Homo sapiens: one gene and its partners. The protein of the gene in region 1 interacts with the protein of each later gene in a pairwise test. Each region holds a gene or a part of one and is shown in the gene's direction. Other genes may lie near its edges. The genes, in order: TTPA, CMTM4, SAR1A and SLC35E3.

What was found.
Region 2: the proteins of TTPA (region 1) and CMTM4 interact in binary tests that used the Homo sapiens proteins (3 or more experiments, as listed by UniProt).
Region 3: the proteins of TTPA (region 1) and SAR1A interact in binary tests that used the Homo sapiens proteins (3 or more experiments, as listed by UniProt).
Region 4: the proteins of TTPA (region 1) and SLC35E3 interact in binary tests that used the Homo sapiens proteins (3 or more experiments, as listed by UniProt).

Annotation. Positions count from the first base shown.
Region 1 is NC_000008.11:63,083,047-63,090,369, reverse strand, and holds the start of TTPA (alpha-tocopherol transfer protein), read left to right. Parts: upstream 1-4,316; 5' UTR 4,317-4,348; coding exon 4,349-4,552; intron 4,553-7,323.
Region 2 is NC_000016.10:66,686,737-66,693,763, reverse strand, and holds part of CMTM4 (CKLF-like MARVEL transmembrane domain-containing protein 4), read left to right. Parts: intron 1-7,027. UniProt on the Homo sapiens protein: Acts as a backup for CMTM6 to regulate plasma membrane expression of PD-L1/CD274, an immune inhibitory ligand critical for immune tolerance to self and antitumor immunity. May protect PD-L1/CD274 from being polyubiquitinated and targeted for degradation.
Region 3 is NC_000010.11:70,153,515-70,160,541, reverse strand, and holds part of SAR1A (small COPII coat GTPase SAR1A), read left to right. Parts: intron 1-2,674; coding exon 2,675-2,778; intron 2,779-6,572; coding exon 6,573-6,704; intron 6,705-7,027. UniProt on the Homo sapiens protein: Small GTPase that cycles between an active GTP-bound and an inactive GDP-bound state and mainly functions in vesicle-mediated endoplasmic reticulum (ER) to Golgi transport.
Region 4 is NC_000012.12:68,756,165-68,763,191, forward strand, and holds part of SLC35E3 (solute carrier family 35 member E3), read left to right. Parts: intron 1-2,992; coding exon 2,993-3,075; intron 3,076-3,875; coding exon of another isoform or gene 3,876-3,921; exon of another isoform or gene 3,922-4,227; intron 4,228-7,027. UniProt on the Homo sapiens protein: Putative transporter.

The DNA of each region.
Region 1 (7,323 bases):
AAGTAGGGGAGGTGGATAAAACAAGATTGGCAAAATATCATTGATTGCTGAAGCAGACTGTATATTGGTATTCATTACTATTATTTTTACATATGGTTGAAATGTTCTGTGGTAAATATTATTTTATAAATTTTACATAGAGTTTCCCAAGTGATGTGGGGTAATATTTCTGCTTCAATGGAAAATTATGCATTACATAGACTCTAGATGGCACCTCCTGCATTATTTGATTCTCATTCTATCGAAGCTATTTTACAATTCTGTGAACTGTAGATAACTGATAGCAATGGCAAATAATTCTTGTCTAATAACATGCTAATTCTGAACTGCCTGGAGGAGTTTTGATTGACCTCTCTCCCTCACTGTGAAAGAAGTTAGTTTTGCCTCCATTTGCACATCCCTTTCAACATCCTTTACTCCATGTAAATGTGTGCTTTTTTTTTTAACTTATTTGAACTTGCAATAACATGTGTCTACTTTCCTCCTTACCAGTTGAATAAAATCTTTAACACTTGTTCAGTTTTATATATGTATAAGTGTCATAATTTTATCTCTTTTTGAAAATGTTATCTTTTAACAGTGAAAAATATTTGTCTTTTCTGTGAAGCTGAAAGTAAAATAAATTGGTATACTTATGAATTATTATGCTAATAAATAACTAAATGTTAAATAATTTCAGAGTAAATTGTAAGGTAGCTACAAAAGTCAACTAACTTTTCATTCCAGTTTTGCTTTTATTTCCTCATACCATTAGTTCCAGAAATCCCTTTGGACTCTTTCAGCCAGAGGCCTGGATGCATTTTCGGTAAACACAAGAGCTCACCAGAGTAAAATATGAGCATAGAAAATTTGAAAACATTTCAAAACAAAAATTGAGTAACAGCTCTTGAAAGCTTGTGCCAAGAATTCTAAAATTTTTATATAAATCCAAGATAACATTGTTGAAAGACAGAAGCACGATCTGTATAATTTAACCCCAAAGTAATCAAGTTGTAGTGTAAAATTCTCACCTTTTATGTCTGCCCCATCAATTCTTCAACTTTTTTCTCTCTTTCCCATAGTCGTGCAATCTTTTCTACCACTGGGCTAACTGCTGACATTGGCATTGCTTCCCACTTGAGTTATAGATATCCACCGCTCCCTCTGCCACCTCTTAGGTATTTAGGAGCCACCTCTCACCACCATCTGGGCTCCATGTTGGCTTCATTTTCACTGAGTTTAATGGCAATCAATCAGTCAATCTTATTGATTTCTTAGAAGAGTTTCACAGATGCAGAAATAACAGATTTATCAGTTCTAAAAAGGGACACTAGGCCAGGCACAGTGGCTGACACCTGAAATCCCAGCACTTTGGGAGGCTGAGGCGGGCTGATCACGAAGTCAAGAGATAGAGACCATCCTGGCCAACATGGTAAAACCCCATCTCTACTAAAAATACAAAAATTAGCTAGGCATGGCAGTGTGCGACTGTGGTCCCAGCTACTCAGGAGGCTGAAGTAGGAGAATCTATTGAACCCTGGAGGCGGAGGTTGCAGTGAACTGAGATTGCATCACTTCACTCCAGCCTGGCAATAGAGCAAGACTCCGTCTCAAAAAAAAAAAAGGGATACTACAATGAAGGAAACCAAAAATATGCCATTCACAATATACTCCTTTGGTCTATTTTGAGATGGCTATTCAGAGGGACTGCCAGCACAAGAATAGCCCTGAAAAGCTGTCTTTTATAGGGGAGATTTGTATCTGTAGAGAAAATCCATATAGGTGAAATAAACATCCAAGCTTTCTCTGAGGCTCCCCTTCTCTGGATCTAGGAAAGATTAACTTTTGGGAAAAAGGGACTAAAAGTTGGACACCTTAAAGGTCCACTAGGGAAACTGTTACTACAGGCTCCTGTCTTATTCTTTCTGAGAGCTCCTCCCTGGAGGATTTTATCTGCAAAACTAGGTAGGCTCTATGCCATGCTTTCCCCCTCACTTTCCCATAACCCGTGTCTCCATCTCTCCTCGAGAAGCCCCAAGCCCCTATTCTTTCTGTAACCTCAGGATGGTATAAAACTTCATTATCTGGCCCCTTCTTTAAGTCTCATACTTTGTGTATGACTCCCTTGTTTACACACGTTAATATACGCATGTGCCTTTTTCCCATTCGTCTGTCTACTGTCAGTTTGTTTTATAGACTAAAATCATGGAACTTACAGAGGGGAAGAGACATTCTCTTTGCACCTTCAATGGCTATAGCTAGATAATGTCCCCGATCTCTCACTGAACTTTCTGCCCAATTTCAAAAAAGTGGATGCTAATTACTAAAAACAAGTAGGAGAGAGCATTGAAAAAAATCTTTTGGAAGGGAGGAAAACATGCTCTATAGGCCCTCTCTTATTATTTTTAGACACTTAAAACTTCTAGAGAAGAAAGGCTACCATTGTCTTTTAATTCTTCGGAGCTTCCAGAAAGGCCTTGCACAGTCAGCCCCTCTTGACTAGTACTTTCTTCCTTCCCCCTCTCTCCTTTGGTTGGCAAACATTCCCAGTGCATTCACTAAGGCCGTGCAAACAGCCCCTTTGTGAGGCCTTTCCAAATCTCTTAGGCAGTGTCGGTAGTGTTCCTCTGTGTTCTCACACCATGGTCTCCAAACCTGTTTTGTACACTTGTCACATTGACTTGTAAACCTTTACTCAAATAGCTTCCGTCTCACTCTGAGTATAAGCCAAAGCTAGGAATCTTTTGTCCCCAGGTATAGTTGCTTTCTGGTTGGATTGGGATTATTTACTCTAATGCTTCCCATCTCCCTCAGAACAGAAGCCAAAGCCCACAGCCTTCCAGTCCCAGATACCCCTGGGCCAAGCTCGCTCACCTCACTCAGGTGTTTATTCCAACGTCACTGTAGGTGCTGCCCACTTTTTGGCTTCGTTTCCCCATAGCATTGACTGCCATTTCTTATATCACATTATTTACTGATTTATCTTGTTAATCATCCATTCCCTCCCCCAAAAGAATGAAAACTCCTTGAAAGCAAGAGTTGTGTCTATTTTGTTCACAGGAGTGCCCTCAGTACCTAGAATAGGGTCTGGACACAGTAACCACCCAATCACTCTTTCTTTAATGAATGAAATGGCAGTCTCTTTCTCCACCCTCTGAGCTCCTTAAAAGCAAAGATTTGGTTTAATTTGTTTTTCTCCAAGTCCAGCATTTACCTGGAGCATAGTATGCATTTAATAAGAAACGGTTTCATGGATTCTCTCTTGGGAAGACAAAACAATTCTAGGCTAGTTCCAATATGGAGAAATCAAGAAAAGGACAACGGAACAGCCTTTCAAGTTTCCACATTATTTCCCTACTTCATCTTCATTCCCCAGGCTTTCATAGACTCAATCATATAACAGCTTTGGACTGTCCATTTTAGCGAGTAGACATGCTTAAAGTTTAGTGATGGTGGAGTGTAACAGAGTAAGTTTATGGTGCTAAAAATATATGGAGGCCAGTCATGGTGGCTCAGGCCTGTAATCCCAAAACTTTGGGAGGCCCAGGCGGGAGGATCACTTGAGCCCAGGAGTTGGAGGCTGCTGTGAGCCTTGATCAGACTGCTGCACTCCAGCCTGGGCGACAGTGAGACCCTGTCTCTAAATAAGTAAATAATAAATTAATAAAAAATATAAATATATAAATATTGGTGCGGAAGGGGGTCAGGGTACGCGCTAGTCATTTATTTGTGTCAGTAACAGGGGCCGGTGCCAGGATTAGAGAAGTTTTCCCGAATCGGGAGGAAGGGAGAAAAGCGGTGAGGCTGCCAAGGAGGCATTATGGAATGCGTGTTTTAGAATGCATGCTGTAATCCAGTGCGAGGCGAGGGGTCATCAGTCTGGAATCTGATGGAAGGAGAAGGGAGAGGGCTCAGTAGCGCGTCGGCCACTGGCCATTAAAGGCTCGTTCTAAGGCTCCTTTCAGCTCCAAGATTGCAAGAAGGAAGGAAGAATGGAAGGAAGAGAGAGGGAGGAAGGAAAAAGAAAAAAAAAAAGATTCTCTAGTAGATCGTAAAAATCATCCCAACTAACTTTGACATCGTTTCCTCGGTGTTTGAACATCAGTGGCTTCCCTCGCTGGGAAAAAGCTGGGGTCCCTAACTAAAGCTGCTAAACAGGTGGCTAGCACCCGTGGGGACACTGTGCGGTTTCCTTTAAGAGGCAGCTCTGCTCGCCGCGGGTCCGGCGTGCGAGGCCGGAGACCGCCCTGCCAGGCTGGAGAGTGGTTGTGCGACGGGCAGCGGCCGCAGAGGCGGGGCCGAGGGTGGCGCGGGGCGCGCGCTTTTCCCGGGTGCCCGGGTAGCTGCGGCCGCAGCAGCGGCGGCGGGCATGGCAGAGGCGCGATCCCAGCCCTCGGCGGGGCCGCAGCTCAACGCGCTACCGGACCACTCTCCGTTGCTGCAGCCGGGCCTGGCGGCGCTGCGGCGCCGGGCCCGGGAAGCTGGCGTCCCGCTCGCGCCGCTGCCGCTCACCGACTCCTTCCTGCTGCGGTTCCTGCGCGCCCGGGATTTCGATCTGGACCTGGCCTGGCGGGTAAGCGTGCGTGCCCAGGGCGCTCGGCAGTGCGCACCTCACCCGCCCCGTCCCCCGCCCCACGACCCCGGATATCTGACCCCTGCCGAAGCCCAGGGTGCAGGCAGGACCCTGGCGGGTAACGCGCCCCTAACCACCCGGCGTGGGCGCTGAGGCTGTAGATGTTCCGAGAATCCAGAGCTGGTCCTCCAGTTTCTCTGGGTCATGGAAACGACAAAGCTAGAAAGTGTTGGAGTCATGGGATAATGGCCCATTTGATCTCAAGCATGGAGAACTCCTGCGCTAGATGAGTCTCCTGAACCTACAAAGTTTGGGGGACATGCCTTCCTCTCCCTGCAGGAAAGCCTGTGGTACAAACAAAGTAACAGCTTACAAGTTGGAAGCTCAGACTTATCACACGTGACCAGATTAACTACGTATAGCGGGGAAAATGAAATTGCTGGTAAAACTGAAGTTCTGAAGCCATATAGTAGCAACATAGTATTATTACTAGTAACACTTAAGTGTCAAGACAGTAAAGCAACCCAGTATAGTTCGAGTCTGGGTTGTAGTCGGGCAGTTCTTTTGGTTTCTGGTATGTTACAGCTCACTGAAAGAAAAGGTGATGGAAAGATAGGAATCAGAAAGAGGGATGCGACCTTGAGTTCTGTCACTTTAGGTTTGGTGTCCTTATCTGTTAAATAATGATGGAAATGCCTGTCTCATTGATTTTTTGTGAAGATTGAACATTAACCAGTTTAACAAAACAAGCTGTGCCCAGCACAGTGCCTGGCACACAGTAAGCATTCAGCAGTTCGACCAGATCTAGCCCTTTCTCTAAGTGGCTTGTTCAGTGTCACACAGCTGCCTAGCAGGAAAGATATTATAGTACAAAATTCCAGTGTGTCTCAGTATGAGGTTTTTGAGGGTTTCTCTTGTTTGTTTTAGAGTGAAAGCAACTTTATTAAGAATGTAAAGAAACAAAAGAATGGCTACTCCATAGAGACAGAGCAGCCTGAGGTTGTTTTTAACTTAAGTAAAATTATGGTAAAAATAATCTAGGTAACACAAAATCCTAAAACGTGAAAAGTAAGTTTCTAACAGTAACTTTCTAAAGGAAAAAAGCTCCCTACCTCAAACCTTAGTTTGTCAGTCACATACCCAGAGGCTGGTTAGTGTTACTCATTTATCTTTTTAAACAGCCAGAGGTTGCACAAGCATGTTTGTGTGTGATTTCTATTTTGCCTTTCTTACCTGTCTTTGAACTAGGAGCATCCCATATCAACTGGTATACATCCATCTTACTCTTTATTGGGCTGCTGTTATTCTACTGGATGGATATATTAGACTATATTAAAATGTATCTAACCTGTTATTGGACTTAGGGCTTATTGCTGTTCATTCCTTCATTCAACAATTATTTTTTGGACTCTACAATTTGCCTAGTAGTACACAAGATGCAGTCAACAAGGCGGCTGTGGTTTCTTCCATCACTGACTGGGCATTCCTCATGTCCTCATACTTTGTGCATAAATAGGAATATAAATTTACAGGATAAATTCAACCGGTGAAATTGCTGGATGAAATTAGATGTGTATTTTTCAGTGTTGAGTAATATAACAAACTGTCTTCCAAAGAGTTTTCAGTGCCTTCCAAAGGTCGCAGTAGCTCAGGCCTGCAATCCCAGCACTTTGGGAGGCTGAGGATGGTGGATCAATTGAGCTCAGGAGCTCACGAACAGCCTGTGCAACATGGTGAAACCTCATCTCTACAAAAAATAACAAAAATTAGCCAGGTGTGGTGGCACGTGCATGTAATCCCAGCTACTTGGGAGGCTGAAGTGGGAGAATCGCTTGAGCCCAGGAGGTGGAGGTTGCAGAGAGCCGAGATTGTGCTACTGCACCACAGCCTGGACAACAGAGTGAGGCCCTGTCTCAAAAAAAAAAAAGAAAAAAAAGAAAAAAAACTCTATAACTCATCACTCTGATATTACATGATTTTGCCTTTTCCTCCATAACCCACACTGTATTATCAAACACAATTTGTGTATAAACCTGCTAAAAGAGATATACTTTTTCATTGTTATTATAATATGCATTTATTTAAGTGTGATTAATAATCTTTTATATACATGTAAAATTTCAAAATTTCTTTCCAGTTAACTGAAAATGGCCTGTTTTTGCTTTTGTTCTTTTTTTTTTTTATTATACTTTAAGTTTTAGGGTACATGTGCACAATGTGCAGGTTTGATACATAGATATACATGTGCCATGTTGGTTTGCTGCACCCATCAACTCGTCATTTACATTAGGTATTTCTCCTAATGCTATCCCTCCCCCAGCTCACCACCCTCCAACAGGCCCCAGTGTGCGATGTTCCCCACTGTGTGTCCAAGTGTTCTCATTGTTCAATTCCCACCTCTGAGTGAGAACATGCAGTGTTTGGTTTTCTGTCTTTGTGATAGTTGCTGAGAATGATGGTTTCCAGCTTCGTCCACGTCCCTGCAAAGGACATGAACTCATCCTTCTTTATGGCTGCATAGTATTACATGGTGTATATGTGCCACATTTTCTTAATCCAGTCTATCATTGATGGACATTTGGGTTGGTTCCAAGTCTTTGCTATTGTGAATAGTGCCGCAGTAAACATACGTGTGCATGTGTCTTTATAGCAGCATGATTTATAATCCTTTGGGTATATACCCAGTAATGGGATTGCTGGGTCAAATGGTATTTCTAGTTCTAGATCCTTGAGGAATCACCACACTGTCTTCCACAGTGGTTGAACTAATT
Region 2 (7,027 bases), on another chromosome or scaffold:
CAGACGTGAGCCACCACGCCTGGCCTAGATTTGTACTTTTCATCCGGAAGAACTTTTGGGCCTAGCCCCCAGAATCTCGCCTAACTCTGTTGTTTGTTAATCTCTAGAACTTAAACTCTGAGAGGTTATATGTGGGTGAGTAAAGGAAAGGGACCTGCTTGAAGGGTATGGCAACTTCAAATGGTTTTGGTGTAGTTGGCTTCCCAGCCTTGATGAAAATCCCACAAAACTCCAAGAAATTGGACTCTAAATTTAAACTGAAAAGAAAATAAGAAGTCATTATGAAGATACTTCTGAGATGTTACAAAACTCAGAATCCATCAAGAAATATGAGTAAGTTCTAACTCTGCGGTTTGGAGAAAAATTTGACTTTTAAAAATCAGGAAGCTGAGGTGGGGGGACTGCTTGAGCCTAGGAGTTCAAGGTCACAGGGAGCTATTATGGTGCCTCGGAGTAGCCACTGTGCTCCAGCTTGGGCAACGTAGCAAGATCCCATGTCTAAAAATAAATTTAGTGGTGTGTATGTTTTTTTTTTCTTTGTGTTAGACTTTTGTTCTTGATGCCCAGGATGGAGTGCAATGGCACCATCTCAGCTAACTGCAATCTCCGCCTCCTGGGTTCAAGCAATTCTCCAGCCTCAGCCTCCCGAGTAGCTGGGATTACTGGCGCCTGCCACCATGCCTGGCTAATTTTTGTATTTTTAGTGGAGACGGGGTTTCGTCATGTTGGCTAGGCTGGTCTCAAACTTCTGACGTTAGGTGATCCACCCGCCTCAGTCTCCCAAAGTGCTGGGATTATAGGCGTGAGCTACTGCGACTGGCCATAAATTTAGTTTTTTTAGATTTTTTTTTTTTTTTGAGATGGAGTCTTGCTCTGTCACCCAGGCTGCAGTGCAGTGGCAAGATCTTGGCTCACTGCAGCCTCCACCTCCCAGGTTCAAGTGATTCTCCTGCCTCAGCCTCCCAGGTAGCTGGGATTACAGGCGCCCACTAGCACGCCCGGCTAAGTTTTCTATTTTTTAGTAGAGATGGGGTTTCCCCATGTTGGCCAGGCTGGTCTTGAACTCCTGACCTCAAGTGATCTGCCCATCTTGGTCTCCCAAAGTGTTGGGGTTACAGGCGTGAGCCCCTGCGTTGGGCTGTAGACTTTTTGGTGGTGTTTTTTGTGGCCTATTGCAACCTGTAGATCCTTGCTATTCCAAGTTTGGCCTTAGGCCAGCAGCATTGCCATCACCTAAGGGCTTGTTAGAAATGCAGAATCAGTGGCCTTACCCCAGAACTTCTGAGTCATCTGCATTTAAACAAGATTCCCCAGGTGATCCACGTGTACATTAAAGTTTGAGACTTACCTTTCTATATCCTTTCAGTGTTAACCTTGCAACAGGCCGGGCTCACGCCTGTAATGCCAGCACTTTGGGAGTCCGAGGTGGCTGGATCACTTGAGGTCAGGAGTTCAAGACTAGCCTGGCCACCATGGTGAAACCACATCTCTACAAAAATACAAAAAATTAGCCAGGCATATAGCGAGTGCCTGTAATCCCAGATACTCCAGAGGCTGAGGCAGGAGAAGCGCTTGAACCTGGGAGGCAGAGGTTGCAGTGAGCTGAGATTGTGCCCTTGCATTCCAGCCTGAGTGACAGAGCAAGACTCCATCTCAAAAAAAAAAACAACAAAACCTCACACAGGTGCTAGCAACCAGCTTTCGATAAATAGTCAACCTTAAAGCTGAGATTTTTCGGTAAAATGAGACTGCCAATACCTCCCTCAAAGGATTAAGAAAATGAAATAATATGTGTAAGTTAGTACCTACCGTATTAGGTATCTAACTGATGTGCAATAAATGTTAGCTGTCATAGTGCTAACAATGCCTGTCTCTAAAGAAACTGTGTGAAAATATCACCAAAAACATAATTATGTGTTTGAATTAAAGATAGTTTAATTCCTTATGATTTAAGTTAAATTGGTATTTTTAATGGAATGTGATTGGATACTAAAGCTAATCTGAAACATTATGAAAAAATTAAACGGTGCAGTTGCATAGATTTTATCTTTTCTTTTTCTTTTTGAGACAAGGTCCTGCTCTGTGCCCAGGCTGGAGTGCAGTGGTACAATCATAGGTTACTGCAGCCTCGACCTCCTGGGCTCAGGTGATCCTTCCACCTCAGCCCTCCAACTAGCTGGGACTACAGGTGTATGCCACTATGCCTAGCTAATTTTTAAATTTTTTGTAGAGATAGGGTCTCCCTGTGTTGCCCAGGTTGGTTTCAAACTCGTGAGCTCAAGCAATCCTTCCTCTTCGGCTTCCCAAAGTGCTGAGATTACAGGCATGAGTCACTTACCTCCGCCTATATCTTTTCAAAATGAAACCTGTACGTATCTCTTAGTTGGGGAGAATGTCTAGTGTGGTTAAACAACTGATTTAAATTATCTTCTTCCTCCTTGTGTGAATTTTTTTTTTAAATGAATAAAGACAGTCTAATGAGACTGTGTTGCCCAGGTTGGTCGCAAACTGGGATTACAGGCGTGAGCCACCGCACCTGATCCACATCCCTTTCTTGAGCCCTTCCCATGCCTAGATGACTTTCTGACAATGTATTTGTATAGGACTTTTTAATAACAAAAGATGGGTAATAGGAATTTTTTTTTTAAGACAGATTTTTGTTCTGTCACTGCAGGCTGGAATGCAGTGGCATGATCATAGCTCACTGTAACCTCGAACTTCTGGGCTCAAGGGAGCCTCCTGCCTCAGCCTCCTGAATAGCCAGGACTACAGGCATGTGCCACTATGCCCTGCTATTTTTTTTTTTATTTTTGTAGAGACGAGGTCTTGCTATGTTGCCTCAAACTAGAGGCTAATCTCGAACTCCTGAGCTCAAGCAATCCTGCTGTTTTGGTCTCCCAAAGTGCTGGGATTACAGGTGTGAGCCACTGCGCCTGGCCTGGAAATGTTTAAATGCAAATTTTAGCTCAGCTGATTTTGATGTCTCTTAATCTCATCGAATCTGGGTTCCTCAGTTGTACAGTATGGGTAGTAATGACTAATTGACCATTTTAGGAATTGTAAGAATTAAGAGGTTAATGTTTGATAGTTGCTTTCTTACGTAACTCAAAAACAAATGTGAGTATTTGCACTTCAGGGGTGGGTAATGGCATCTCTTTTATTTGGTGGAAACCTTGTTAGTTTTTTAAATCTCAAGCCAGTCAGCACAATCCCTGGCTGGTTACTGTTCTCTGGAGGATGTGCAGGGGTGGGGCAGTAATACATTATAGAAATCATATGCAACACAAATATAGCTACATTTACAAAGCTGCAACTTTGAGAAATGACTGGCTGTAGACATAGCACTGAGCTTATCAGCCCCAAATCCCCTCAGTTCTGTTGGAGGGGCTGGTTCAACTGAGGTTCAGCTGGGTTCCTGATTCGTAAGAGCTGGTCAAATGACCAGGCAGACACACAATGACCCTGGTCAAACCGTGAAGGGTTCTGCGTTTTGTTTACTACTGAAGATTCCTTTGTACTTCTGGCTCCCATTTATCCCTGAAGTCATGCATATACAAGCGCATAATGGTAGATGAAGCAGTGGGTTTCTCTATGTTGGATTCTCAGATCCACCATTCTGTGGCTCCTTGTAAAACAGTCCCATTTTCCTTTAGGAAGATTGTTATCTTTAGGAGTTGTCTTCCTGATCAAGGACTTGGAGTCAAATAAATTCTGGCAGAAAAGCAAAGTTATAATTACTCTTAAGTTTTTTTGATGATTAAAAATAGTGAAATTATAATCCACGATCTCAAAAGAAGTTGTTAAATGTAGAGCGTACATGTGTTTTACAAAACCACACAAAGACAGTTCAAGAAAATGATACTACAGACCAATATTCCTTATATGAACACAGACACAGAAATCCTCAACAAAATACCATATAGAAAATAAAACCCAGCATAATGGAGAAAGAATAATACACCAAACCAATTTGATTTATCCCAGGAACAAAAAGGTTGGTGCAGTTTTTGAAAGTAAATGTTATAGGTGTACACCATATTAATAACTTAAAATAACAGGCCAGGCACAGTGGCTTATGTCTGTAGTCCCAGCACTTTGGGAGGCCGAGGCAGGTGGATTGCTTGAGCCCAGGAGTTCAAGACCAGCCTGGGCAACATGGTGAATCCCCTTCTCTACAAAAAATACAAAAATTAGCATGACATGGTTGTGCATGCCTGTAGTCCCAGCTGTAGGCTAAGGTGGGAGAATTGCTTGAGCCCAGGAGGTCAAGGCTGCGGTGAGCCGCGATCGTGCCACTACACTCCAGCCTGGGCAACAGAGTGAGACCGTTTCTCAAAAACAAAACAAAACCCAAAGCCACATGATTCTATCATTTGATGCAGAAAAAAAAAACTTTTGACAAAATTCAGTACTTTTCCATAATAAATGCTGTCAGCAAACTTGGAAGAGAAAGGAACTTCTTCAACCTGAAAAAGGGCATCTACAAAAAATCTACAGCTAACATTATACTGTAATATATAATGTTACAGTGGGGAAAGAATGAATGCTTTCCCCCATGATGGGAAACAGGCAATGATGTTTACTGTTACCACTCATATTCAAGATCATACTGGAAGTCCTAGCCGTTGCAAAAAAATTAATAGGAGACGTACAGATCAGAAATAAATAAAACTGTCCCTATTCGCATATGGCATGATTAGGTAGATAATCACATGGGAATCTATAAAAAACCTCCTAGAACTAATAAGTGAGTTAGCAAGGTTACAGGATATAAGGTCAACACACGATAACCAATAGTATTTTTATATCCTAGCAATAAATCATTGGAAATTAAAACAAAAAAACCAATATCAGTTATAACAGCACTCAAAAGAATGAAATTCTTAGATATAAATCTCACAAAACATGTATAGAATCTGCTCACTGAAAACTACAAAACACTGAAGTAAGAAATCAAAGATGACCAAAATAAGTAGACAGGCATTCTGTGTTCATTAGGATTGGAAAACTCAATATAGTTAAAATATTAGTTCTCCACAAATGATCTATAGGTTTAATACGATCCCAAAATCCTAGCAAGGTTTTTTTGTAGATAGAAGAATGCTGATTCTAAACTTTATATTAGCCAGGCAAAGGGCTAGTGATGGTTTATGGAGGTATGTTCCAGGGAGAGAGAACAATGACATGAAGTCACCCTTGTTTAGGGTAGAATGTGTGTGTGTGTGTGTGTGTGTGTTGAGGGGAGTGTTTCTGAGAGTATGATGGACTTCGTATCTCTTATCGGCCATGAGACTTTTGGCAAGCTACTTGTTCACTCAGGCCACAAGCAGATCTCCTGCAGGTCTCTCACTTGGGGATTGTAAGTTGGGGATAATGGTAGTATTACAGTGCTGGTGAGCCCACCATGCTCCCTAGCTCAGCGTCTCAAGACACCACGTCATCAAAGCCTGTTGGAGGTTGCTATGGTCTGAATGTTGGCATTCCCCCAAAATTCAGATGTTGGAACCTAACACCCAGTGTGATAGTATTAAGAGGTGGAGCCTTTTGGGAAGTAATTAAGTCATGAGGGCTCAGCCCTCATGAATGGGATTAGTGCCCTTTTAAAAGAGTTTGAAGGGAGTGTCCTTGCTCATTCTGCCATGTGAGGACACATAGAAAGTGCCGTCTGTGAAGAATGGGCCCTCACTCAGATACTGAATCTGCTGGCACCTGGATCTTGGAGTTTCCAGCCTCCAGAACTATGAGCAATAAATTTCTATTTATAAATTACCCATTTTGGCCAGGCGCGGTGGCTTACACCTGTAATCCCAGCACTCTGGGAGGCCGAGGCGGGCAGATCACAAGGTCAGGAGATCAAGACCATCCTGGCTAACACGGTGAAACCCGGTCTCAATGAAAAATATAAAAAATTAGCCGGGTGTGGTGGCAGGCGCCTGTAGTCCCAGCTACTCAGGAGGCTGAGGCAGGAGAATAGCGTGAACCCAGGAGGCGGAGCTTGCAGTGAGCCAAGATTGCGCCACTGCACTCCAGCCTGGGCGACAGAGCGAGACTCCGTCTCAAAAAAAAAAAAAAAAAAAAAAATTACCCTTTTTACGGTATTTGGTTATAGCAACCAGAACAGACAACAGACTGATAGTGATACAGAATATCTCTGGAATGATACAAGTTGGGGAGCTGGGTGGCCGAGGGCCAGGGTGTCAGGGAGACATTTTCTGCTGTATAACTGTTTGTACCTTTTGTATTTTATTTTATTTTATTTTATTTTTGAGACGGTCTCGCTATGTTGCCTAGGCTGGCCACAAACTCCTGGGCTCAAGCGATCCTCTTGCCTTCAGCTCCCAAAGTCCAAGGTTTACAGGCATGAGCCACTGCTCCCAGCCCTTGAATTTTGTACCACATGCAAGTACCTTCTATTCAAAAATTACTAAAATAGTAGATGTTACTAGCTTTACCTTAGTATAGCCTTAAAGCTCATATACTGACTGTAATCTTTAACTTTTCATGACTTTCTTTGTAATTTGGAGGCCCTTGGGAAGAATGATTTAGATAATACAGACCACTTGGACAAACTTGAAGCTTAAATTGTTTTAAAATGCACTTTTCTGTAAAAAAAAAAAAAAAAAAAGCATTCTGCACAATAGTGGGTGCTTAATAAATTTGTTGATGCTAATGGAAAACTTCTTCCATTTGAAAGGAATTTACCCTCATTTGTTAGTGAAAATGTTGTAACATTAAAGAAAATTAGAAATTAGAAAAATAATCATCGTATTATGACAGACTCAAATGAAAAGGACTTGGAAATTTTTTCCTTTCCAAAGGCTACATATGATCCCCTGTGGCAAAGTCTGGTGATTATGTTTTCTAGTTTTTTTGCTATTAGGAAGATGCGTCAATAAATGTCCTCATGAGTGTAGCCTGGATTCTTCTTTTGAATTATTATTTTTGGTTAAATTTCAAGGAGTGCTTTTACTACATCAAAGGACAAGACCACCACATTTCTGAACATTTAAAAAAAAAATACAGACTT
Region 3 (7,027 bases), on another chromosome or scaffold:
TAACTAGGCTTGCCCTAAGCCAGTATATTTTCTTCTATACCTTTTGCTCAAATTTGTTAGTCTCCTCCTCCCTACATAATACATATTAATGCTTATTTTTTATGAACTGTTTGTGAGCATATCATGCCCCTTTACTCTTTAATACTTTAGTGCCTCTTCTTTATATAATACATATTAATGCTTGTTTTTAATGAAGTGTTGGTGAGCATATCATGCCCCTTTACTCTTTAATACTTTAGTGCCATTTTCTAAGAACAAAGATATTTCCTTGTATATAATCATAATAGTTATCAAATCCAGGAAGTTTTATTTTTATCCACTCTGTATTTCCTTTTTTTTTTGGTCAGTTGTCCTGATAATCTCTTTTATACCATTTTTTTCATCTTGACCAGGTATACGGTATCATATATCTAGTTATGAAGTCATTTTTGCATCCTTTATTCAATGGAGTGAAAGTATGTAGGAAATTAAATATTTATAAGTAATTTCAGACTTGTCAAAAGTTGCAAAAGTAATACAGTGACTATGTGTGATTACTCTGATACAAGTTGATATTTTGTATATTCTATCCATTTCAGACAGTTGGTGGAACATTTCCTTCTACCTTTTTGCTTTCCTCAGAAGTGCTTTTTGCCTACTCAGGCTATGTCTTTGGTTTCCAGATTCCTATCAGGTGTTTAGAGACATACAGAGTGTCATCTTTGTCTGATGGGCACTCAGTTCACATTTGACAAGACCGTAGGTATAGGAGTAAAACATTTAAGATGTGAGAATAAATATTCTGGGAAAGTAGGGAAAAGGAACTATTGAGATTCTGTCAGATTTACTTACTTGTTATTACACTGAGTGGAGAAGTCTTGTTTTGAAACATTAGGTTGAGCTAATACCGTTTTTTTCTTTTTTTTGAGATGGGGTCTTGCTCTGTTGCCCAGGCTGGAGTGCAGTGGCACAATTTTGGCATACTGCAACCTCTACTTCCTGGGCTCAAGCAATCCTCCCACCTGTTTTTTGTAGAGACTGGGTTTCCGCCATGTTGCCCAGGCTGGTCTTCAACTCCTGAGCTCAGGTGATCCACCTGCCTCAGCCTCCCAAAGTGCTGGGATTATGGGCGTGAGCCACTGTGCCCAGCCTAATACAGTTTTTAAAAAATGTATAGTAAAATATAACATTGGTCATTTCTAGTTGTTAAGCCTAATAATTTTATAGTCAGTGATTTCATTAACATATAATTACATTTTAATTAATTTATTTAATATTTATGCCCTGAAAAATCATGTATATTATGATCATAATCACATAAAATACCAGTAAAGAAAAGAGGCTGGAAGAAAATATCAAAATATTGACAAGGGGTGTGTTTTGATAGAGGGATTAGAAATGATTTTGTTTCCTTTTTTTCTGTAAGGAGCTTGTATTTTTTTCATTTGGGTAAGAATGGGTATATGGTGTCCTTTCTGCTGCTTCCACAAAAGGATTTGTAACTGCTTACAAATTTAAATTCAGAGCAAGATAAGACTGAACCTAGACCATCTGGAGAATGTAGAAGGACCAGACGCCAGATGGTTTTATATACCTGAACTGGGAATTGTAGATTGTTTGGTGTGATAAATTTAGGTTTCAGGTTTTGTTAAAAGTAAGAAGGGAAATGTATTGATGTAATTAGTTTTGTTTATTTGACTGAGGAAAATCTACTTAACAAAAACACTTTTACATAATAACCTAGCCACCATTTTATAAAAGTTACTAAAGTACTGTACATCTGGAGGTTTCCTTTTTTTTTTTTTGTATAACTTAAAAATTTTAACTTATAAAAGGAGAGCAAGTTCGATGTAACAAAATCAGTATAGAACTACGGAAAGTAAAATGGAAAGTTCCTTCAACCTCTTTTTCCTAGCTCCACTCTTTAAAGGTAACCATTATTAACTGATGTAGAGATGGTTCGTTATTCATTCTATTGCAAGGGCTAGAAATTAATGGCTTAGAAATGATAGTACAATTAAATCACTGCTTCCCAGCCTTTATCGTTTCATGTCACAAGCAAAAAACCAAGTAATATTTATAAGGCATGCTGGGTTAAATATGGTAGGTTGAGATAACTGGCCTGGGGCCTTGAACCACTTGTCAGGCCTAGTCTCCCTAAGGGCTGAGCAGAGGAATGTGTCAAGACGCCTACACACAAGTTGGCTAGAAACTAACTGGGACTAAAGTTACATGGACAAGTAATTTGTATCCTGATGTTTTAACTCAGAGGTTGCAAACTAGACTTGGCCCCAGGGGCAAGGCAAGTCATTTAAGTGAGTAAAATTGGCTGACTGTAAGACAGCAGGGAAATTTTGTCAAGCAAAAGTGTTCAGACATCATCTGAAGGGGCAGCCACTGCTTAGTTCCTGCTGATAATTGTCACGTGGATAAGTAGGCATGGGATTGCCAGATGTTGCAGTTTTTCAAAAAAAGCGGAAACTCTGATTTTCAAATTTACAAAAATCAGGTTCAGCTCATGGACCATCAGTTTGCATCCTCTGTTCTGAATTAATACTGGCCAGAACTTGGAGAAATCCATAGAGTCTAATCTTACTGAAACCCGACCAAGATTTGTCCATTTTATAGACCATTAGGTTATTCATTTTCACAATGTATATTTTTTACTCATGCAACTACAAACTTTGTTTTTTAGCACGTCGCGTTTGGAAAAATTATCTCCCAGCAATTAATGGGATTGTCTTTCTGGTGGACTGTGCAGATCATTCTCGCCTCGTGGAATCCAAAGTTGAGCTTAATGTATGTTTTGTCCTTTAATGTGTATTTTAATGTATATTTTGTTCTTTTTTGGCCTCTATTTTTTTTTAAGGAATATAGCTCAGTAGTGCCAATAATTAGTCATTCCAGTTAACATTTGGCAAAAAGACCTAGTTGCAGGAGGAAAATGTTTTAAATCTAAGACATTGCTTTTCAATGTCCTGAGGAAACTCAGCTCAAACTTAAATAAATTAACTGTTGTTTCTATCATACAGTGATTATATGGCCAAGTTTGCTCAGGATACTCCTCATTTATGCCTGTTGTCCCAGCATAATTAATAGTATTCTGTTTCACGTGTCATGAACAGTAATTCTGTTTTTTTTTTTTTTTTTTTTTTTTTTTTGACGGAGTCTTGCTCTGTTGCCCAGGTTGGAGTGCAGTGGCGCAATCTTGGCTTACTGCAACCTCCACCTCCTGGGTTCGAGGGATTCTTCTGCTTCAGCCTCCCGAGTAGCTGGGACTACAGGCACGTGCCACCACGCCCGGCTAGTTTTTTGTATTTTTAGTAGCGACGGAGTTTCACCATGTTAGTCAGGTTGGTCTTGATCTCCTGACCTCATGATCCACCCGCCTTGGCCTCCCAAAGTGCTGGGATTACAGGCATGAGCCACCGCGCCTGGCCCATGAACAGTAATTCTTTATAAGTAGTGTTGGCATAGTGAAAGCCTAAAAGCGATATTAGAGTTCTTTACATTTTTGAATCTGCATTCTCAGCTTGTGCCTACCCACCCTCCCACTGAATGACTTGCCAGACCTTCATGGTCTGTTCTCAGTCTTCAGTTTTGGTTGCATACATCCTTTGATACTATTAAGGACTCACTTCAAGTTTTCTCCTTTGTCAACATTGCATTTTCTCATGGCTTGATGGTTTCTATACTATTGGCTTTGTTATCCCTACTCCTTTACCCTATATCTCTTCTTTCTCTTTGATTTATAACTCCTTGCATTCTTGTTTCTGGCAACTTGAACCTGTCTTGAATTTATTTCTAAGTATGTTTCTCACATCTATAGCTCCAGCCTCATGTAGAATTGCCTGCCACGCAGTCTTTACCTTGCTTTTTTTTTTTTTTTTTAAACAGAATCTTCCTCTGTGGCCCAGGCTGGAGTCCAATGGTGCAATCACGGCTCACTGTAACCTCCAGACTTCTGGGCTCAAGCGATATTCCTGCCTCAGCCTCCCAAGTAGCTAGGACTACAGGCATACACCACCACACCCAGCTAATTTTTTTTAAAAAAGTGTTTTTGTAGAGACAGGGTCTCATTATGTTGCCCAGGCTTGTCTCAGTCTCCTGGCTTCAGGTGATCCTCTGCCTCGGCCTCATGAGGTGCTGGGATTACAGGCATGAGCCACCATGCATGGTCTCCATTCTCTTTGTTTAAACTCCTCTTTTCACTCTTGATTTTGGAGCTACCTCTCTGGCTGATACTTCTGTCTCTTTGAGAAGCACTAGTTCTTCTGGTTAGTCCTTAAATGTTGGTGTTCTCCAGAGTACTTTCTCCTAGGCTGGTCCCATCTACTCCCTTCATTTGGCACCTACATGTCAGTGACTCTCAAATGCATTTCTCTCCTCTAGACCTCTCCTGAGCTCTAATCTCATACCTAATCCTGCCTACTCTCGACAACTCCTACTACTGATTCTGTTTTCCTAGAATGGAACTATTTGTCTTTCCCACCCACCACCTACCTGGACATGCAGTCCACAAATCTGTGAATTAATATAAATCCTACCATGACCCTGATATGCACCATAATGCTAGAAGGAACTTTCTCAGACTTAATTGCCCTACTTAATATCCTTTGATAGTTCTCTATCATTTTCAGGATAAAATCTATAAATCTTTTGCATAGCACATAGGATCATTCATGATCCTCCCTCTGTTTCTTTTTACTGCCTACCTTGAACTATATTCCAAACAAACAACTTAGCCATCCTTGAATATGCACAAGTAGCTACTGCCTGGCTTTTTCACCTGTACCTCTCCTCAACCCCTCGCTTTGTCGGCAAATTTTAAAATGTTCTATAAGAGACCTCAGAGTTCAGATATGACTGCTTCTGGTAAGCCTCCCTTGACCTCTGAGACTGTGTTAGACTCCCACCTTACCAATGTCTGTTGTCTTTATTGATTTTTTTATAGTTCTCTCTCATCAGACTATGAACTAACATGATAGGGACTGTGTCTTATTTCTTTGCAAAACCCCTGCACCTAGCAAAGCATTAGACACATTAGGTACTTTGTTGTTGCTTAATGAATGAAGGACATTCTTATTCTAATTTTGTGTAACATTTCCTGGAATTCCAGATGGTCAAAGTACATTCCTCTTTATCTCTTTAACTCTGCTTTCCCCGCTAGCTTTCCTATTGGTGACAACTAGATTCCCAGGCTTGAAATCAGTGGCAGTTTTGACTCATTTGTCTTTTTTAAATTTTTTTTTTAATCATTTAGACATTGGTCTCTTCAATTCTTTCTTCAAAATGCCTCCTGCAGTATTCATTGAATGCTCTACCTTAAGCTAGATCATGATCTCTTACATGAACACCACAGATAGATACTATTTGTGAATTCATTATACTGAAAAATAAGATTTTATTCACTAACTTCTGGATTTGTGGTCTTTTAGGATATATTGCAGCTCACTTCTCACACTGGCCCCTAATGTGAGTCATCTCTTCTCATCCATTTACTTTGTCGCTGCATGTCTATCTAAATGCTTGAATCCAGCCATGCAGTACTGTGTGGCTTCCTGAATTATTGTCCTAATGCAAAGCCGTTGTTTATGTTCTTACTTCTCCTTTACACCTATCCAAACCCTGCCCTTCCTTTAGAGCCCTGTTTAGGTTCCAGATCTTTTCTAAGACTTTGCTCAAGCCCAAAATTGCCATTTTATTTCCCTGAACTTGTCTTAATGTTAATATTCAGTTCCCATTCATTGTGACACTTATCCACTATATTGTGTTCTTACTTGGCTTTGTTAACATAAATGTGGCTGGGCGTGGTGGCTCATGCCTGTAATTCCAGCATTTTGGGATGCTGAGGTTGGCAGATTACTTGAGGGGCAGGAGTTTGAGACCAGCCTGGCCAACATGGTAAAACTCCATCTCTACTAAAAAAATACAAAAATTAGCCAGGCGTGGTAGCACATGCCTGTAGTCCCAGCTACTCAGGAGGCTGAGGTGGGAGAATCGCTTGAACCTGGAAGTCACAGGTTGCAGTGAGCTGAGATTAAGAAAAAAGAAAAAAAACATAATGTGAACATAGAGTGAGGATTTTTTTGAGGACAGGAATGTGCTTCCTTTTGTATCCTCAGTGCCTGAGATAGTTACCCTTCCTACTTTATTCCTCTCAATGCCTGAGAGAGTTCTTCGCACACAATGGGACTTGGTGAATACTTGGGGAATTCCTGTAGTCATCTTTGAGGCTCTGTAGCCAGAGCATTCATTCTTATAGGACTTTGCTGAGGGACATCCTGAGGATAGTTTGTGGCTGAGCAGATTAGCTCAAAAGTTAATATTGGGGCAGTTCTGCTGCCTTGTAAATAAATAGAATAAAGTTGCAACTGTTTCGAGGCACTTAGGAGATTTTTACTTAATGTCATGGGTGTTATGTAATGTCAAGGTGAATCTTTAATCACTCAGGTATAAAGTTGATCAGATTTTCACTTTACATTAATGCCTTAAAAGATTAGTGGAAGTCAGAATTTTCATTATCTGGTGGGCTTTTGTAGATTCCTCACTTAATTCTTTTTTTTCTTTTTTTCTTTTTTTTCAATCTTTAGGCTTTAATGACTGATGAAACAATATCCAATGTGCCAATCCTTATCTTGGGTAACAAAATTGACAGAACAGATGCAATCAGTGAAGAAAAACTCCGTGAGATATTTGGGCTTTATGGACAGACCACAGGAAAGGTAAGAGAAAAATATTTGGGTTACATATAAAGGACATTAACAGTTTTTAAAACATGATGTTTCGCTATCTAGATTACCCTTTTCTTTTAAAGGCTTAAACAGGCTTAGGATTAGTTTTACTGTGAGTATTTTGTAAGCTCACTAGAGGCAGGAGTGTGTTCTTTTTAACGTTTTAAATGGGATTCATTCATCAGGTATTTGAGGAAGAAGGAAATGGTAGAAAAGGCAGATTTACTCTTCTAAGAGTTTATGATTATCTTTCAAATTTGATTCTGAGAAATTGCTTTTGAAATAGCCCTTTTTAGCCAGAAAATAATTTTTTT
Region 4 (7,027 bases), on another chromosome or scaffold:
TTTGCAAAAGTCCTAGCCATCCTGGTTATCTGGTTTCAAACCATTGCAGCCTAGAGACCTTATACTACAAGGAGAGAGGATTTTTTTCGTAGCCTTCTAACAGGTTTTAAAATGAGGACAGCAGCAGAAAAGCCATTAAAAAAAAAAAAAAAAAAAGGCAAAGAAACCAAGACCACAGCAGGCTGAGGCCATTTAGTGTGAAGGAAAGTCATCTTCATTCCTTAATGTCCCTAGGAGGCATCCTTGACTCAAAGTAGAGGATTGTGTCAACTCAACTTTTTTTTTTTTTTTCCATATGAAGCCAGCATTACCCTAATACCAAAACCAGGAAAGGACACAACCAAAAAAGAAAACTAAAGACCAATATCCTTGATGAACATAGATGCTAAAATCCCTAACAAAATACTAGCTAACTGAATCTAATGACGTATCAAAAAGATAATCCACCATGATCAAGTGGGTTTCATACCAGGGATGTGGGGATGGTTTAACATACAAAAGTCAATAAATGTGATACACTATGTAAACAGAATTAAAAACAAAAATCACATGATCGGCCAGGCGCAGTGGCTCACCCCTGTAATCCCAGCAATTTGGGAGGTCAGGGCGGGCGGATCACGAAGTCAGGAGATTGAGACTAGCCGAGACCATCCTGGCTAACACGGTGAAACCCCGTCTCTACTAAAAATACAAAAACAAAATTAGCTGGGCGTGGTGGCTGGTGCCTGTAGTCTCAGCTACTTGGGACGCTGAGGCGGGAGAATGGCGTGAACCCGCGAGGCGGAGCTTGCAGTGAGCCGAGATCGTGCCACTGCACTCCAGCCTGGGCGACAGAGTGAGACTCCAAATAAATAAATAAATAAATAATGGCATGATCATCTCAATAGATGCAGAAAGAGCATTTGACAAAATTCAGCATCGCTTTATGATTAAAACCCTTGGCAAAATCGGCATACAAAGGACATACCTTAATTTAATAAAAGCCGTCTATGACAGACCCTCAGCCAACATAATACTGAATGGGGAAAAGTTGAAAGCATTCCCTCTGAGAACTGGAACAAGACAAGGATGCCCACTCTTACCACTCCTCTTCAACGTGGAACTAGCTTCTTTATATTCTTCAAAGTCCGTAACAAAGACCCTAACAAAGTAGAGTAATTGTGTTTTTAATGATGTGCCAAGTATCAAGTTTAAGTTTTCTTTGGAACTTAAACTTCTTAATAGTTTATATCATGAATATCATTTTATCTAAATTCAGAAACAAAATGATTCTATAACTTTTTGGATAAAATTATGGGATAGATTTGAACAGAACTTTGTATGTGTATATAGTGGTCCAACCCATTTGTCCCCCTGTGCCCAGCCAAGTTATCTATAAAAAGGAATAATATTTTTACAACTACTTTGTGGATGTATGTGAAAATTAAATAAGTGAATACATGTAAAACAGAACAATTATTGGTGCATAATAAGTGTTATGTAAGTGTAAGCAGTGATCATCATGATTTTTATTATGTCCTCAAGTAGTTTCTAAGCTCTTTGAGGGCAGGAACTTTGTACATACTGCGTTCCTCAGAAGGCCTGGCCTAACTTTGTAGATATCCAATGAATGCTTATTGAGTTAAATAAGAATAAAAATGAGGCCAGGTGCAGTGGCTCAGGCCTGTAATCCCAGCACTTTGGGAGGCCAAGGGGTGCAGATCACCTGAGGTCAGGAGTTCGAGACCAGCCTGGCCAACATGGTGAAACCCCATCTCTACCAAAAAATTCAAAAAAAATTAGGTGGGTGTGGTGGCATGGGCCTGTAATCCCAGCTACTGGGGAGGCTGAGGCAGAAGAATCACTTGAACCTGGGAGGCAGAAGTTGCAGTGAGTCAAGATTGCACCACTGCACTCTAGACTAGGCGACAGAATGAGACTCCATCTCAAAAAAAAAAAAAGAATAAAAATGAGCAATTTAATAGAAAAAGATCTCGGCCGGGTGCAGTGGCTCACGCCTGTAATCCCAGCACTTTGGGAGGCCGAGGTGGGTGGATCATGAGGTCAGGAGTTCAAGACCAGCCTGGCCAAGATGGTGAAACCCATCTCTACTAAAAATACAAAAAATTAGCCGGGCGCAGTGGCAGGCGCCTGTAGTCCCAGCTACTCAGGAGAATGAGGAAGGAGAATCATTTGAATCTGGAGGGTGGAGGTTGCAGTGAGCCCAGATCGTGCCACTGCACTCCAGCCTGGGTGACAGAGTGAAACTCCGTCTCAAAAAAAAAAGAAAAAGATCTCGAAGGAGGTATGCCGAGATGTTAATGTGTGGGTGGTTGGGATTATAAGAATTCCTTATATTCTTTTTGCTTTTCTTTATTGTCTGATGTACAATAATAATAATGCATATGTATACTTTTTCTTTAGATTAATAAGAAAAATGAACCTGGAAATTCACAATCACAGAAAGGATGTTATTGCAGTATTTTTCGTTGATTCTTGTGGAAAAAATTACGTTTTTTCTAAACACGGTTCATTCTGCTTTTTTACTTGCAATTCTTACTGTCTCCCAACCCCAAATTCTCTTTCTTTTTTTTTTTTTTTTTTTTTTTTTTTTTTGAGATGGAGTCTTACTCTGTCGCCCAGGCTGGAGTGCAGTGGCGTGATCTCGGCTCACTGCAAGCTCCACCTTCCAGGTTCATGCCATTCTCCTGCCTCAGCCTCCCAAGTAGCTGGGACTACAGGCGCCCGCCACTGCGCCCAGCAAATTTTTTATATTTTTAGTAGAGATGGGGTTTCACCATGGTCTCGATCTCCTGACCTCGTGATCCGCCCGCCTTGGCCTCCCAAAGTGCTGGGATTACAGGCGTGAGCCACCGCGCCCGGCCCTCTCTTTCTAATCTTATTTATTAATGGTTGATATTTGAATTTTTTAAAATGCCGAATGAAATGTATCTTTGCTTGATGATTATGATTGCAGTGCTTTGCATTAATGGTTCTTTTGGTTTATTTGTAGCTTATGGTGCTGCTATCTGGAGTAATAGCTTTCATGGTGAACTTATCAATTTATTGGATCATTGGGAACACTTCACCTGTCACGTATCCTTTTCATATAACTTAGAAATGCATCGTCTTTTATATTTTCCAAAACTTTTACATTCATTACCTTATTTGAATCTCACACTAACTATTGCATGGCCTAAATTGAGTAGAGAGAGTTATTTTTAGCCTTTTACTGTATCTTTACCCACTAAAGGATTTTAAAGAAATATGAACTGAAGGGGCAAGTGTGGTGGCTCACACCTGTAATCCCAACACTTCAGGAGGCCGAGGCGGGTGAATCGCTTAAGGCCAGGAGTTCAAGACCAGCCTGGATAACATGGTGAAACCCCGTCTCTACAAAAAATATATAAATTAGCTGGGTAAGGTGGTGCACGCCTGTAATCCCAGCTACTCAGGAGGCTGAGGCACAAGAATTGCTTGAACTGGGGAGTCGGAGGTTACAGTGAGCTGAGATTGTGCCACTGTACTCCAGCCTGGGCAACAGAGCAAGACTCTGTCTTAAAAAAAAAAAAAAAGAAATATGAACTGAGGAAGTGGGTTAGCTTTTTGTGTCATGAATGTTTCTGAATTTTCTTATGTAATAGGTGACCTTTTCCCTTACAAAAATTAACTCAGAGTACCATTTCTTACAGACAGTGAGATTAAATATTTTTTGAATGAATAGTGAGGTGGAGGTTTGGATTTTCAAACAATTTTCAGGTATTTCTAGTAACAAAGTAGAGGAATGGTTAACAAATAACAAAAGATAATTTCAGGCCACTGGCATCTGGCTATGGAGTATGTGTTTGTACTTATTTGGATATGGGTGTGCCTGTTTTTCTCAATATTATTTCAAGTCAAGAAATGAAGTCATTGGCCGGGTGCCATGGCTCACGCCTGTAATTCCAACACTGTGGGAGGCCGAGGCAGGAGGATCGCTTGAGCCCAAGAGTTCGAGACCAGCCTGGGCAACATAGGGAGAACCTATCTCTACCAAAAAAAGAAAAAATAGAAATGAAGTTATATGTTAAAGGTCAAATTCAACTGTCCATTTGTACCATTCTGCTTGTCATCCTGTTTCTCTTCACATTTCACTCTGCCCCCACCCTTAGGCAAATGCAACAAATGAATTTCCCCAGGAAGTAAACAAGTAGGATATTTGCCAACTATCAATAAAAAACAACAACGATAAGTTTTTTAGAAAACCAATACTTAACAAATATTTATTTTGTGTCAGACACTGTTAGAAACATTTTGTATGTATTAGTCCATTTAATTCTCACAGCAGCTCTGTGAGGTAAAGTCTGTCATTTTTGTTTATAGAAAAAATAGAGGCACAGAGAGGTTAACCAACTCACTTAAGGCACACAGCTGACAAATGGGATGTCCAGATTTGAACCCATGCAGTCTAGTCCCCAAATTTGTACATCATACTACCCAATCAAGGCATCCAAATATGTGCTCTGATTTAAAACATTAATTTATTCAATAAGTATTTATTGAATACCCACTAAACCAGTCATTGATATAAAAATATTTATATACTGAACATCTACTGTGTGCCAGGCACAGGGGATACAGTAATGAACCACATAGACAAAAGTCTTTGCTCTCACAGGCTTGAATTCTGGTGAGGAAGACTAGAAATAGAAAACAATTAAATATTTATATACAGTGTTGGATAGTGTTAACTGCCAAGGAGTAAAAATAAAGCGGGGAAGAGAATGTGAAATGTCATAGACAGCATTGAAGTTCTAGGCAGGGCTAGTCAGGAAGGCATCAGTGGGAAGACGACATTTGAGTAAAGACCTGAAGGAAATGCAGTTGCTCCATGCAGATCAGGAGGAAAGAACATTCCAGGCAGAGGCAACAGCAGGTGCGAGGCCGTAAAAAAACCAAGGAAGCCTGTGTGGTTAGAGCAGGTTGAGCAAAGGAGGGAATGTGGTAGGCTGAGAAGTAACACAGAACTGAATTGAGTAGGGCGTTTATGTAAGGACTATTAAACTGAGTAAGATGGGAAGCCATTAGCATTTTGAGCAGAGAAGTAACATGATTTTACATACATTCTAATAGAAGCACTCAGTGGGCCGGGCACAATGGCACACCTGTCATTCCAACACTTTGGAAGGCCAAGACAGGAGGATCCCTTGAGCCCAGGAGTTCGAGACCAGTCTGGGCAACATAGTAAGACCCTGTCTCTACAAAAAGTTTTTTAAAATAAAATAAATCATAGAATCACTCAGGACTCCTGTGTTGAGAATAGACTTAAGAAGGATTTCTCAACCTCTGGGCTGTTGACTTTTTGGGCTAGACGGTTCTTAGTGCAGGCCTGTTTAGTACACTGTAGGATGTTTTCAGCAGGCCTGGGCTCTACCACCAGATGCCAGTAGCATACATACCCTTTGCCCAGTTGTGACAACCAAAAATGCCTCCAAAGATTGCCCACAAAGCAGAATCACCCATGGTTGAGAACTACTGGACTGAAAGAGGCACAGGAAACTCAGGAGACTGCTACGATATTCTAATTTAGAAGTAATAGTGGCTACCAGTATGATAGCAGTGGATATAGTAAGAAGTGATTGGATTCTGGAAATATTTCTAAGAAGAGCCAACAGGTTTTGCTGCCGAGTTGGATGTGGAGAAAGAGAAAACAAGGCTGATTTACATGGTTTTTGACCTGAGCACCTGGTAGAATGGAGTTGCCATCAACTAAGATAGGATACCCAGAAGGAGGTTTGGGGCTGGGGAGGAAGATAAGGTGCTCAGTTCGGGGAGTATTTTGTTGTTGTTGTTTTTGAGACAGGGTCTTGCTCTGTCACCCAGGCTGGAGTGAAGTGGCGCGATCATGGTTCACTGCAACCTCAAACTGTTGGGCTCAAGCATTCTTCCCACCTCAGCCTTCCAAAGTGCTGGGATTACAGGTGTGAGCCACCGTGCCCAGCCAGGTGCTCAGTTTTGGATAAACAAGTCAGGGTTCAAAGGTGACGTCTCAGCAGGAGGCATCACAGGGAGTGAGCAGTATGAAGCTGTGGTTTAAAGTGATGAGACTAGTTGAGATTACCAAGCAGACAAGTAGAAGAAAATAAGTCCAAAGACTGAGTGTTGGGTTTGAGTCCAGTATTTGGAATTCAGAGAGATGAGAAACTAGGTGGAGGATGAGAAGGAGCAGTCAGAGGTGGAAGGAAGGAGGAGACTGGCACAGAACCAGAGGAAGGAGGAGGAGGCGGGGTCGGTGTCTGTGTCAGATGCCGCTGGCAGGCCAAGTTCAAGGAGACTGGTCACCATTGAGGGACTGAGTGAGGTGGAGGGCACTGGGTTTGACCAGAACATTCTGCCTGGAGTAAAGTGGGTTGGGGTTGGGGTGACAGCCTGCCTGGAGTAAAGTGCAGAACTGGAAATACCACATGTAGACTGCTCTTTTGTTGTTGCTTTTACAAAAGGATTCATAAATAGTTTCTTTAAATTTGACTTCCTTCTCGTATAAATATACTTAAAAGAGAAGCTGAGGAGTAAAGAAATTTAAAGTGTTAGAGCCAGTGCACATGAAGATAGCTCATAATTGAAAATAAAACATTATGACTATTGCCAACAACCTTGGGAAGATCCTCTGTGTCTCAGGAAGTCACCTTCATGGGATCAAGCCACCATATGCCCCTGGTGACGCAGCCTGTGCTCTCCTGAGGCACTGCTGCTGCCCAGCGGGAACCTCCAGGCTGCTTAGGTGGGCTTGGAGGTCAGACAGGTCCAGGTGTGAACACTGAGCTCTGCCACTCTCTGTGGGCCTGACTAGTGTGGGAACTCTCAGGGTCTCACTCTGATCACTTATGAAATGTATGAAGTGGAGGAAGTACGATCTATGATGTTGGGTGGTTGTATTTGAGAGAATGTGTCAAGCACCAAGCAGGTGTTTATGATACATAAGTACTGCTGTTGGTAATGTTATTATAGCTAGCACATATGGTGCTTACTATATGCTAGAAGCTTTGTGTATATTAACTTATTTAATCCT